Homo sapiens: one gene and its partners. The protein of the gene in region 1 purifies or fractionates together with the protein of each later gene. This does not show direct contact. Each region holds a gene or a part of one and is shown in the gene's direction. Other genes may lie near its edges.

The links.
Region 2: the proteins of LRRC46 (region 1) and LRSAM1 purify together in Homo sapiens (affinity purification with mass spectrometry; 4 studies listed by BioGRID and IntAct, with this or other methods). This does not show direct contact.
Region 3: the proteins of LRRC46 (region 1) and POLE purify together in Homo sapiens (affinity purification with mass spectrometry; 4 studies listed by BioGRID and IntAct, with this or other methods). This does not show direct contact.

Annotation. Positions count from the first base shown.
Region 1 is NC_000017.11:47,834,670-47,838,219, forward strand, and holds the end of LRRC46 (leucine-rich repeat-containing protein 46), read left to right. Parts: intron 1-683; coding exon 684-730; intron 731-996; coding exon 997-1,106; intron 1,107-1,363; coding exon 1,364-1,433; intron 1,434-1,663; coding exon 1,664-1,806; intron 1,807-2,080; coding exon 2,081-2,451; 3' UTR 2,452-3,050; downstream 3,051-3,550. Other genes in the region: SCRN2 (secernin-2), read right to left, coding at 3,175-3,333. UniProt on the Homo sapiens protein: Required for normal spermatogenesis and male fertility. Plays an important role in sperm flagellum biogenesis.
Region 2 is NC_000009.12:127,496,510-127,500,009, forward strand, and holds part of LRSAM1 (E3 ubiquitin-protein ligase LRSAM1), read left to right. Parts: intron 1-743; coding exon 744-825; intron 826-3,500.
Region 3 is NC_000012.12:132,622,924-132,625,802, reverse strand, and holds the end of POLE (DNA polymerase epsilon catalytic subunit A), read left to right. Parts: intron 1-32; coding exon 33-158; intron 159-383; coding exon of another isoform or gene 384-623; exon of another isoform or gene 624-787; intron 788-808; coding exon 809-898; intron 899-992; coding exon 993-1,106; 3' UTR 1,107-2,041; downstream 2,042-2,879. UniProt on the Homo sapiens protein: Catalytic component of the DNA polymerase epsilon complex. Participates in chromosomal DNA replication.

The DNA of each region.
Region 1 (3,550 bases):
ACGAATGACATAGGGTCCTGAATTGAAAAACTAATTCCCTCAAAATAGATCCTGAACATGACCTGTGCTCCTTCCACTGTTCTTTAGGCACTTCTCTTGATCTAGAAGTTCTTTTTGGCATCTACTCTAAATCTTTCACGTTAAATAGCTCCAGCCCATTTCCTGTTTTGAAGAAGAGGAAACTATGAAGATTCCTGTACATCATTCAGATCCTACTTGAAGGCTGTTTGGTGGTGGTGGTGGTGGTTGGTTGATCTTCAGCCTTCCCCTGGTTGAGTATTCCCAGCTCGCTTCAACTTTCCCCATAGAAACTTTAACCGTCAAGTTCCTGTATGCTCATTGTTCTCTCTGTGTATGCAAGCCACCACCAAGGCCCTTTCCGTTTTCCTGGTGGCTTCTTAGTTTCCTTTTCTGATTCCCAGGTCACTCTTTGGTTGTGGAATCAGAAGAGTATACGTAGTCAGGTTTAGATACCCCAGGTTTACACCCTTAACCATCCACATGGGGAAAGAAAATCATCTTTCTTAAGGTAGTGGCAACCTGTTCAAGGAGTGGGGTGATCATTCCCAAAGTGCCAGATCTCCAGCTGCAGAGTAGACATGGTCTTGGGGCTTTGTCCCCGTAAAGGGCCCCTGACGCATCTGATCTCAGCTTGGTTTCCCCACTTCGGTTTCTTCTTGCAGAATAAGATCCAGCAAATTGAGAACCTGGCTTGCATCCCCTCCTTGCGGTATGTGGTGCCAGGGCTCAGGCAGGGGAAGAGGGGTTGGGGGAACCTAGCCATATCCCAAAGAACTGGTTCAGATTTCTCCAAGCCTGGGTCCTTGTCAGTCAAGGACCAGCAAGCCTAGATCTACTCCCTCACCCCAGAAGGCCATGTGTCCCCACTGGTCATCAGCTGCCTAGCCCAGGGGCCCCGGTGTCAGGTGCCCTCCTCTTTTCTTCCAGCTGTTCCATGATTCAGCTCTGCCTCTGTACCCCTTCCTTCCCCTACAGCTTCCTGTCTCTGGCAGGAAACCAAATCAGGCAGGTGGAAAACCTCCTCGACCTCCCATGCCTCCAGTTTCTGGACCTTTCTGAGAACCTGATAGAAACATTGAAGCTGGGTAGGAACCCACTCGCCCTGGCTCACCAAACACATCCCCTGTGGGGCCTGCCCTCCCCTCTGCACCCATCTGCCCATGCTTCTATTAGCCATGCCCCTGCAGGTCCACATTTCATCCTCAGGGAGTTCAAGGGGTTGTGCCTAGAGGTACTGGCTTTGGACTAGAAAGTGGGTATGAGAACCCCATTCCCATCGCTTCATGGTCTTTTGGCTAAGATCAAGTGAGAACCCCATTTCCTCTCTCTTTGCTGTGTGCAGATGAGTTCCCCCAGAGCCTTCTCATCCTCAACCTGTCTGGAAACAGCTGCACCAACCAGGATGGCTACCGGTAAGGAGTGGAGGGTGGGAAGAAAGGTCATGGCTGAGCTCTACCTGCTAACTCAGCCCAGACCCCTCTCAGCCTGCAAACCTGGGGTCCTGTCCATGACACCTTCTCCCCCACCTCCTACCTAGCTCATGAGCCACCACCCCTCCGGGTGTGAGTGCTGTGGTGCGTGTCTTTGCATCCTCCACGCCAGGGTGCCCTCCTGGGTAACCTCTGCTCCTTCTGCTCTGCAGCGAGCTGGTGACAGAAGCCCTGCCACTTCTCCTGGACCTGGACGGGCAGCCTGTGGTGGAGCGCTGGATTTCGGATGAGGAGGATGAAGCCTCAAGCGATGAGGAGTTCCCAGAGCTGAGTGGCCCATTCTGCTCAGAACGAGGTGACCCTGCTTTCCAAGGTTTTCAGCCTCCCCAGAGCCCACCTCTGCCCTGTGGGACATGAGGGAAGCTAAGGTGGCAGTGGCGTCCGGGGAGGGGAGCCCCAAGTTCAGATCAACATCTGGGCCAGAGCCAGGTGTCAGTCCTGGGCCCCAGCCTCAGGCTCCTTCCCACAAGGGACAAGGGGCCAGCCAGAGACTTCCCTGAGCCCAGGGACCCTCCTGCTGAGCCCAGGGCTCCACCCACCCTGTACCCTCCACCCCCGGCCCCTCCCAGGCTTCCTCAAGGAGCTGGAGCAGGAGCTGAGCAGGCACAGGGAGCACCGGCAACAGACGGCCCTGACAGAGCACCTGCTGAGGATGGAGATGCAGCCCACCCTCACCGACCTGCCCCTGCTACCTGGGGTGCCCATGGCTGGGGACAGCAGCCCTTCTGCCACTCCTGCGCAAGGGGAGGAGACAGTCCCTGAGGCCGTCTCCTCACCCCAGGCCTCCTCTCCCACCAAGAAACCATGCAGTCTGATTCCCAGGGGCCACCAAAGCTCTTTCTGGGGAAGGAAGGGGGCACGAGCAGCCACAGCCCCCAAGGCCTCTGTGGCTGAGGCCCCCAGCACAACCAAAACTACGGCCAAGAGAAGCAAGAAATGATTCTCTGTCAACCTTTCTCTACTAGTGGAGAGGAGTGGGGCCTGCCCCTCTTCTCAGACCTCTGACCTGTGACAGAAGCCCATCCCCAGTAAAGTGTCTCTAGGCCCTGAGTATGCTTTTCATGTCACTTGGGGTATCTCAGGGGAAGAAACCAGTGAAAGCTCCAGGAAACAAAATACAGAGCTCAGTGAGCCACCTGATTCTAAAGAGCGAGTCTGGAATCTTTCGGGAGCTACCCACAGGGCAGGCATGCCTCAGGCCCCCGCTGGCTTCCTGGCTCCCACTTGGGCAGGAAGCGGGCACCACCTCATGGAAGAGGCATGCCATCTCACTGCCACCCCTAGCGAGTGCCCTTCCCCGGTCCAAGCCAAGGACCAAGGAGCTGTGGTCCTAGTCATCCCCAACAGCAGCCAGCTCCTGTCCCCTCCCTGTCCTCCTGCCCAGTCCCCATCACTCACCCACTCATAGGAATGAGTACACAACCACAGGCCCCGCAGCCAGCCCACAGCTGCCTTTGGGCCTCACTTGGCTCTCCCACCCCCACTGGTCCTGGGATAAAGTTCACTGAAGAGAAAATAAAGCACATTTATTAAGGCAAAGGCCAAGCTGGCCGCTCAGAACATGGCCAAGGAGCGTGAAGGGATTGCTCCACTTTACCACCACTCAGGGCACCCAGGCCCCAGGGGTCCTGGGTCCACCCCAGGCCAGCAGAAGCTATGAAGCTTACGCATAAGCCTGGCTCTCCCTCTTCACGAAGGCCTGGAAGAGGCTGCCCAGCTCCCAGAGGGGTGGGGCCCACTCGCCGGCCAGCAGCCCCTGTGTGGCCTCGAGGCCTTCCTGCTCCAGATCCTGCTGTTTCTGCTGGAGCTGCTGCCCCCGATCCTGCCCCAAGGGAAAGCTGAGATGAGTCTGTCCGGGACAGGCTTCCCGCCAGGTGAAGGGGGGACTGTGTACCACCTCACACAAGCAGGAGAAAGGAGATACCCCCCGACATTCCCCAAAGGCAGTTGCTGGCTTTGAAGGGAGGAACTCCTCTCCCCAGCTCTGAAATCTCTTCCACTCCCTAGTTCCTTCATATTTCCAGAGTCCCACTGGGAGT
Region 2 (3,500 bases), on another chromosome or scaffold:
GAATACTCATCGCTGTGCCAGCTAACTTTGTAGCACCTGCACGTGCGGGGCACCATTTTAAGCACTTTTTGTATTCGAACTCACTGAATTCTCCCGACAGCCCAGCAGGGTACATATCATTATCATCATCTTTCAGTTGAGACCCAGTAAGGCAATAACTTGGCCCAAGGTCACACAGCAGAGTGAGGTCTCCACCCCAAGCAGTGTGGCCCCAGAGTTCGTGTTCTTTTTCATGAGACTCTCCTGCCCCTCCCTGGACAGATGCAGACACCAGGGTCCAAGAGGACTGGATGGCACTGAGGGTCACAAGGCCATGCCGCTCAGGCTCTGGAGGCTGAGGGACTGTGGGGCTCGTGTGCTGCTGCTGCTTAGTGGCTTGGCCTCCAAGGCTTCTCTCCTCCCCCACCTGGTGGGGAAGTGGCTGAGGTGTGCAGGTGAAGCCTGGCACCGGGAAGCAGTTGCTAAACCATAGCTGTTGCTAGTGCTGGTTTCCCTTTGGGCCTCAGTTTCCCCCCAACCCCTGCCACACTGATTGTTGGGCTGAGGCCTGGGGAGGTTGCCCTCACAGCTATGGTGCCGCACTGCCTCATCCTGACCGTGGGCCCCGCCAGGCCCCGGAAGGCTTCCACATTTCCAGCAGGAGGTGTCGACGGTCCTGTGAGCCTGGGCCTGTGCCACGTGGCTCACACCATTTAGCGGGCTCCCGCCCAGGCCACAGTCTGCACTTCCTTGAACTGTCACAGGTGGGCGTCTCAGAAGCTGGCCTGCAGCACGAGATCCTCCGGAGAGTCCAGGAACTGCTGGATGCAGCCAGGATCCAGCCAGGTACAAGCACAGCTCCAGCCTCTTCCAGGCAGGGCTCCAGCCGTATGTGTGGGCTCTGGTGGGGACAGTCATTTGCTTACATTTCAGGATGACTCCTGAGGGCTGGTTCTAGCCTCTGCTGGTCGGTAAGGTTTCCTCCCAAGGAGCAGGCTTAGGGATCAGTGAGCCCATTTTACAGATGGGAAAAATGGGCCACCAAATTGGGAGAACAGGAGACCTCCACGTAGCAGTGGAGGGGCCCTCCCAGCTCCCTGTCCCATAGCCTTCCCTCAGTCCACCCTACAGACGCTGGGATCCACACACTGAGGGACTTTGGACTAGAGGGAGAAATAGCCCGTCCCCAGGGCCTGCAGTATACCCAATGCTGGGCCTGAGGCATGCCTGTGGACATGGAGAGATGTCCACAACAGGCTGTGAAGGGGCAAAGGCAGGTCGTGAGGCCCGTGGGGAGAAGGGGCAGGTGTGGAGTCTGGGGTCTGCCATGTGCTGAGCATGATCTGGGAGCCCGGCACCTGCCCACCGCTGTGCATGAACCACGTTGAGGAACCTCCGGATCCATCCCGTGAGGAGGCACTGTTGTGGTCCTCATTTTCAAGATGGGGAAACTGAAGCGCAAAGAGGTTAGCATGTCCCCCATCAGGTCCCATTGCTGGCAGATGGTGGAGCCACTGGGCTTGCCTGCCTCCCTGGGGAAGAGGTGAGGGGCCAGAGCAGGGGTGAAGGAGAGGGCAGTCTTGTGCTGCTGGGCTGGGCGAGGCTCTGGACAGGGCATTTTTAGCCAGAGCCAAGGAAGAAGCGGAGGAGCTGAGGCGAAGGTGGAGTTCTGGACTGGACCTCAGTGGGGAGGCCCCGGGGCTCCAGGGGGCTGGGCTGACTGCAGCCCCAGGATAGCTTCAGGCACCAGTTTTGCAGCTACTTTTACTCCAGGGACACTGACTCAACCCCCAAAAAGTCATTAAACTTCTTAGCTTTTTGATATCAAGTCATGTGCAGAATAGGCCCCTTCTGGATGTTCCTGACCCCCCAGCTCTCAGACTGGAGATCAGAAGAGTTTTCCATCAGGAGTTGGGGTCACCCCCGGCAGACAAGCCTCACGTGAGCAGGAGCCACAAACAAACAGGTGCCCTTCACCCTGAGTGGGGTGCAGTGCCTCTGAGCCCAGCAGTCCTCAGGACCGGCTGCTTCTCACTGTTTGAGTCATCCCTGGAGCAAACAAGCAGGTTCTTCCTCTCCATAGCAGATTGGCCATGAGGATCTGTGGCCACATGCAGAAAACGGATGCCTGGGCTGCTCAGGGCTTCCTGCTTGTGCCCATTGGCAGGGGAAGGGGCCATGGTGGGATCCGTCCTCAGTTCCAGAAGGCAAGGGAAACCCTCAATTTCCTAGCAATTCTCTTATTACTCCCAGAAATCGGTATACTTTATATCAAATATAGAGGCTGGGGCCAGGTGTGGTGGCTCACACCTGTAATCCCAGCACTTTGGGAGGCTGAGGTGGGCGGATCACCTGAGGTCAGGAGTTCGAGACCAGCCTGGCCAACATGGTGAAACCCTGTCTCTACTAAAAATACAAAAATTAGCCAGGCGTGGTGGCGTGCACCTGTAGTCCCAGACTCAGGAGGCTGAGGCAGCAGAATTGCTTGAACCCAGGAGGCGGAAGTTACAGTGAGCCAAGATCATGCCATTGCATTCCAGCCTGGGTGACAAGTGAAACTCTGTCTCAAAAAAAAAAAAGAAAAAGAAAAAAACAAATATAGAAGCTGGGTGCAGTGGCTCATGGCTGTAATCCCACACTTTGGGAGGCCTACGTGGGAGGATCACTCAAGCCCAGGAGTTTGAGACCAGCCTGGGCGACATAGGGAGACCCCTTCTCTACAAAAAATAAAATAAAATTAGCTGGGTGTGGTGGTGCACACCTTAGTTCCAGCTACTCGGGGGGCAAAGGTGGGAGGATCGCTTGAGCTTGGGAGGTCGAGGCTGCAGTGAGCCATGATTGTGCCCCTGCACTCCAGCCTGGAAAAGAGTGGGACTGTCTCAAAAACAAAACAAAAAAATTAAAAAAAATTAGCAAGGCGTCATCCCAGCTACTCTGGAGGCTGAGGTAGGAGGATTGCTTGAGCCTGGGAGGTTGAGGCTGCAGTGAGCTGTGATCATGATACTATACTCCAGCCTGGGTGACAGAGCAAGACCCTGTCTAAAAAAAAATATATATATATATATATATGAATGCCCCCTCGAAATGGTGGTTTGGGGGGAAGCACTGATAGCCTTAGAGGGTCTAGTGTTGTAACAGCCTTTAAAAAATCTTTAGTTGTGGCCGGGTGCGGTGCCTCACGCCTGTAATCCCAGCACTTTGGGAAGCCGAGGCGGGCAGATCACGAGGTCAGGAGATGGAGACCATCCTGGCTAACATGGTGAAACCCTGTCTCTACTAAAATTAGCTGGGCACAGTGGCGTGTGCCTATAGTCCCAGATACGCAAGAGGAGAGGCTGAGGCAGGAGAATCACTTGAATCCAGGAGGCGGAGGTTGCAGTGAGCCGAGATCGCACCACACTGCACTCCAGCCTGGCAAGAGTGAGACTCCATCTCAAAAAAAAAAAGAAAAACTTTAGTTTTTCCTGTTATAAAAAATAATGCTTGTAATTCAAGCCGTAGAATAAAGTGAACCGTGATCA
Region 3 (2,879 bases), on another chromosome or scaffold:
CTGGTGACCTCTCGCACTCTTGCTCTGCCTAGGATGGGGCGGTCCTGCCTCAGTGGCTCTGCTCCAACTGTCAGGCGCCCTACGACTCCTCTGCCATCGAGATGACGCTGGTGGAAGTTCTACAGAAGAAGCTGATGGCCTTCACCCTGCAGGACCTGGTGAGTCGTGCATGCCGCCTGCCCGTGTGCCCTGGAGTCCACAGGGGGGTTTCTGTGCACTCCCGGGAGCCGGGGTGTGTGCAGGTCCTGAGGCACGCCCTGGTGTCTTCCAAGGGGCCTGCCCTGCAGACCAGTCCATGCCCTGAGCCTGATGGACTGTTCTGTCCACACTGGTTGAGCACCTGCCTTGGGTCAAGAGCTGGCCTTGTGGGTGCTTCGTTCTAGCGGAAGGAGGCAGACACTCCCAAGTGTGAAGAGAAGGAAAGGAGGAAGAGGGAGTTGCACAGCTCGGCCACAGGAAGGTCTTGCCGAGGGGCATCTGAGCAGAGGCTGGGGGACGCGCCAAGCTGCCGTGTGGTGGTGCACGGCGTTCAGGCCTGCAGGATGGAGGGAGTGAGCAGGGCCTGGAGGAGGCCTCAGGACTGGGCATCTGGGGTGGAACATCCACAGCGAGGGTGGGTGTAGGGAAGGCGCTGGCACCGTGGGATGAGGTCGTGCATTTTACTCATAACCGAGGGCTGGCTGCACACAGCAGGGGCTCGAGGCTTACTGATGGGCCCACGAATGTGTCTCGCGAGCCTGTGAAGAAGCAGCAGGCAGGTCTGGCCAGCGCGGGAGGGCTGGCGCCCATCGGGGCTGCTCCCTTTCAGGTCTGCCTGAAGTGCCGCGGGGTGAAGGAGACCAGCATGCCTGTGTACTGCAGCTGCGCGGGAGACTTCGCCCTCACCATCCACACCCAGGTGGGCTCTCCCTCATCTGCCTCGGCTCAGCCTGGCCTCCTTGGCCTCCTCTCTGAGTGGACTGGGGTCTCACTGTGCCTGTTTATTCCTGCAGGTCTTCATGGAACAGATCGGAATATTCCGGAACATTGCCCAGCACTACGGCATGTCGTACCTCCTGGAGACCCTGGAGTGGCTGCTGCAGAAGAACCCACAGCTGGGCCATTAGCCAGCCCCGGGCCCCGGGTGCCTCTGCGTCCGTGCCAGGCCTCCTGATGCCAAGGCCACATCCCCGTGCTTCCAGTGACCAGACCACTGACCACCCTGACTGTCCAAACCTGTGACCCCAGGCCAGGGAACGGGGAGGAAACCAAAGAAAACCATTTTCAGGGAGCTCAGACGTCACAGGAGGGAGCGGGAGCAGGATGTGGCCCTGGCCTCGCCAGAGCACCTGAAGAAGCAGGCCGTGAGCGAGGCTGCGAGTGCCCTGGGCGCCGTTTCTCACGCAGTGAATGCTTTTCCAGGCCTCTGTTGCTTCCTGCACCACACCTGGTGGGGTGGGAGCGTCCTCTAGGTGCCCCTAGTTCTTTGTCCTGCCTCCCAGAGGGAGGAAAAGCCCCTGGGGGCTTCTGGCTCCCTGAGATTGGGCTCTGAGACGAGACGGGTTCCCAAGGCCCTGGTGGGGCTGGAGTCTCACCTGTTTGCATGGAGAAATGGGCTGGCCCCACAGCCTCACAGGAGCAGTTTGTGGGCTGGTTTCCCCAGGAATCCAGACCCTAACCCGTGAGAATCTGGATTTTGGCTTGTGAGCCCTGCTTATTTGGAGCCGGGTCTAGAGGGAACCCTCTATCAGCCTCAGGAAAACAAGACCTCTGTGCACCTCACTTTTGGCTCACTGCAGCCCTTGTCCTTCACCTCCACACAGGACCAGCTGGAAGCAGAAAGAAGAAAGGCCAATTTCACAGGGCACCAAACAAGTATGAAATGTAAATCAGAAATGCAGACACCCCAGACGAGAGCCTCACAGGAGGGAGGGGGCCCCACAGGCTCCCCAGGAGGCTCGTGTCTTTGGCCCAGAGCCAGCCTTAGTTTGTCCCTGCCATCTACTGTCTGAGGCCATCGCTGCTACACTTTGTTTTTATTTGTATTTCATACTGAAGTTTCTCTAGGTTGTCACTGTGTATTTGTGCAGAGCGCCTCAGATCGGGGACTGGGTACCACTGGGCACGTGTTTGGCCCCTGGATGCTGCTGGGGCCGCCTGCCTGGAGAAACCTGATGCCTGCTCAGATGGAGGAGTGCTGAGGCCTCCAGAGTGGAGATCAAATCAAATTAGGGCAAGCAGGGGAGGAGGGAGGCTGGCTGACTAGGCTTCATTCCTGGAAGCGAATCTGGAGAACCCTCAGGAATGAGGAGTGATGGGGCCAGGGGACAGCCGCTCGTCCCCCAGGAAGGCCACCTAGCAGGACCAGGGGTCGCCCGGTGCAGCCGTGGGCGCCAGTCAGCCTGGGTTCACTGTGAGGCTAGCTGCGGGCATTTGAGTAGTGGTGGAGGGGTCAGAAACGGGAAGCTCTGGCCCTGGTTCCCAAGCAGCGGCTCAACCAGAAGAGCCAGTTTCTCCAAAAATGAGCTGGATATTTGTGAGCCACACAGCATGTGCAGGCCGTGGGGTGACCTGAGGCCGATGCCCGAGGCTGGGAGGCCACAGTCAAGGGAAATGGGGCCCACGGAAGACATGTTCTCGCCACCTGAACACAGCGCTGGGATGAGGACTCTGGAGTTGTGCTGAGACCTCCAAACTCAGGCTTTAGGGTCAGACCAGGGTCGTCTTACCCGCCCTTCTCCGCTCTTTGACCTTTGGGCGTGGTGTTGCTCTCCTGAGACTGGGTTTCCCTTCAGAGGCAGGATGTCATCTGTCACTGGCACAGGTGACATCATGACGCTGTTCTGGGCTCCTCCCCCCACCCAGTGGGCACCAGTCTAACCACTGCAGCATCTGAGGAT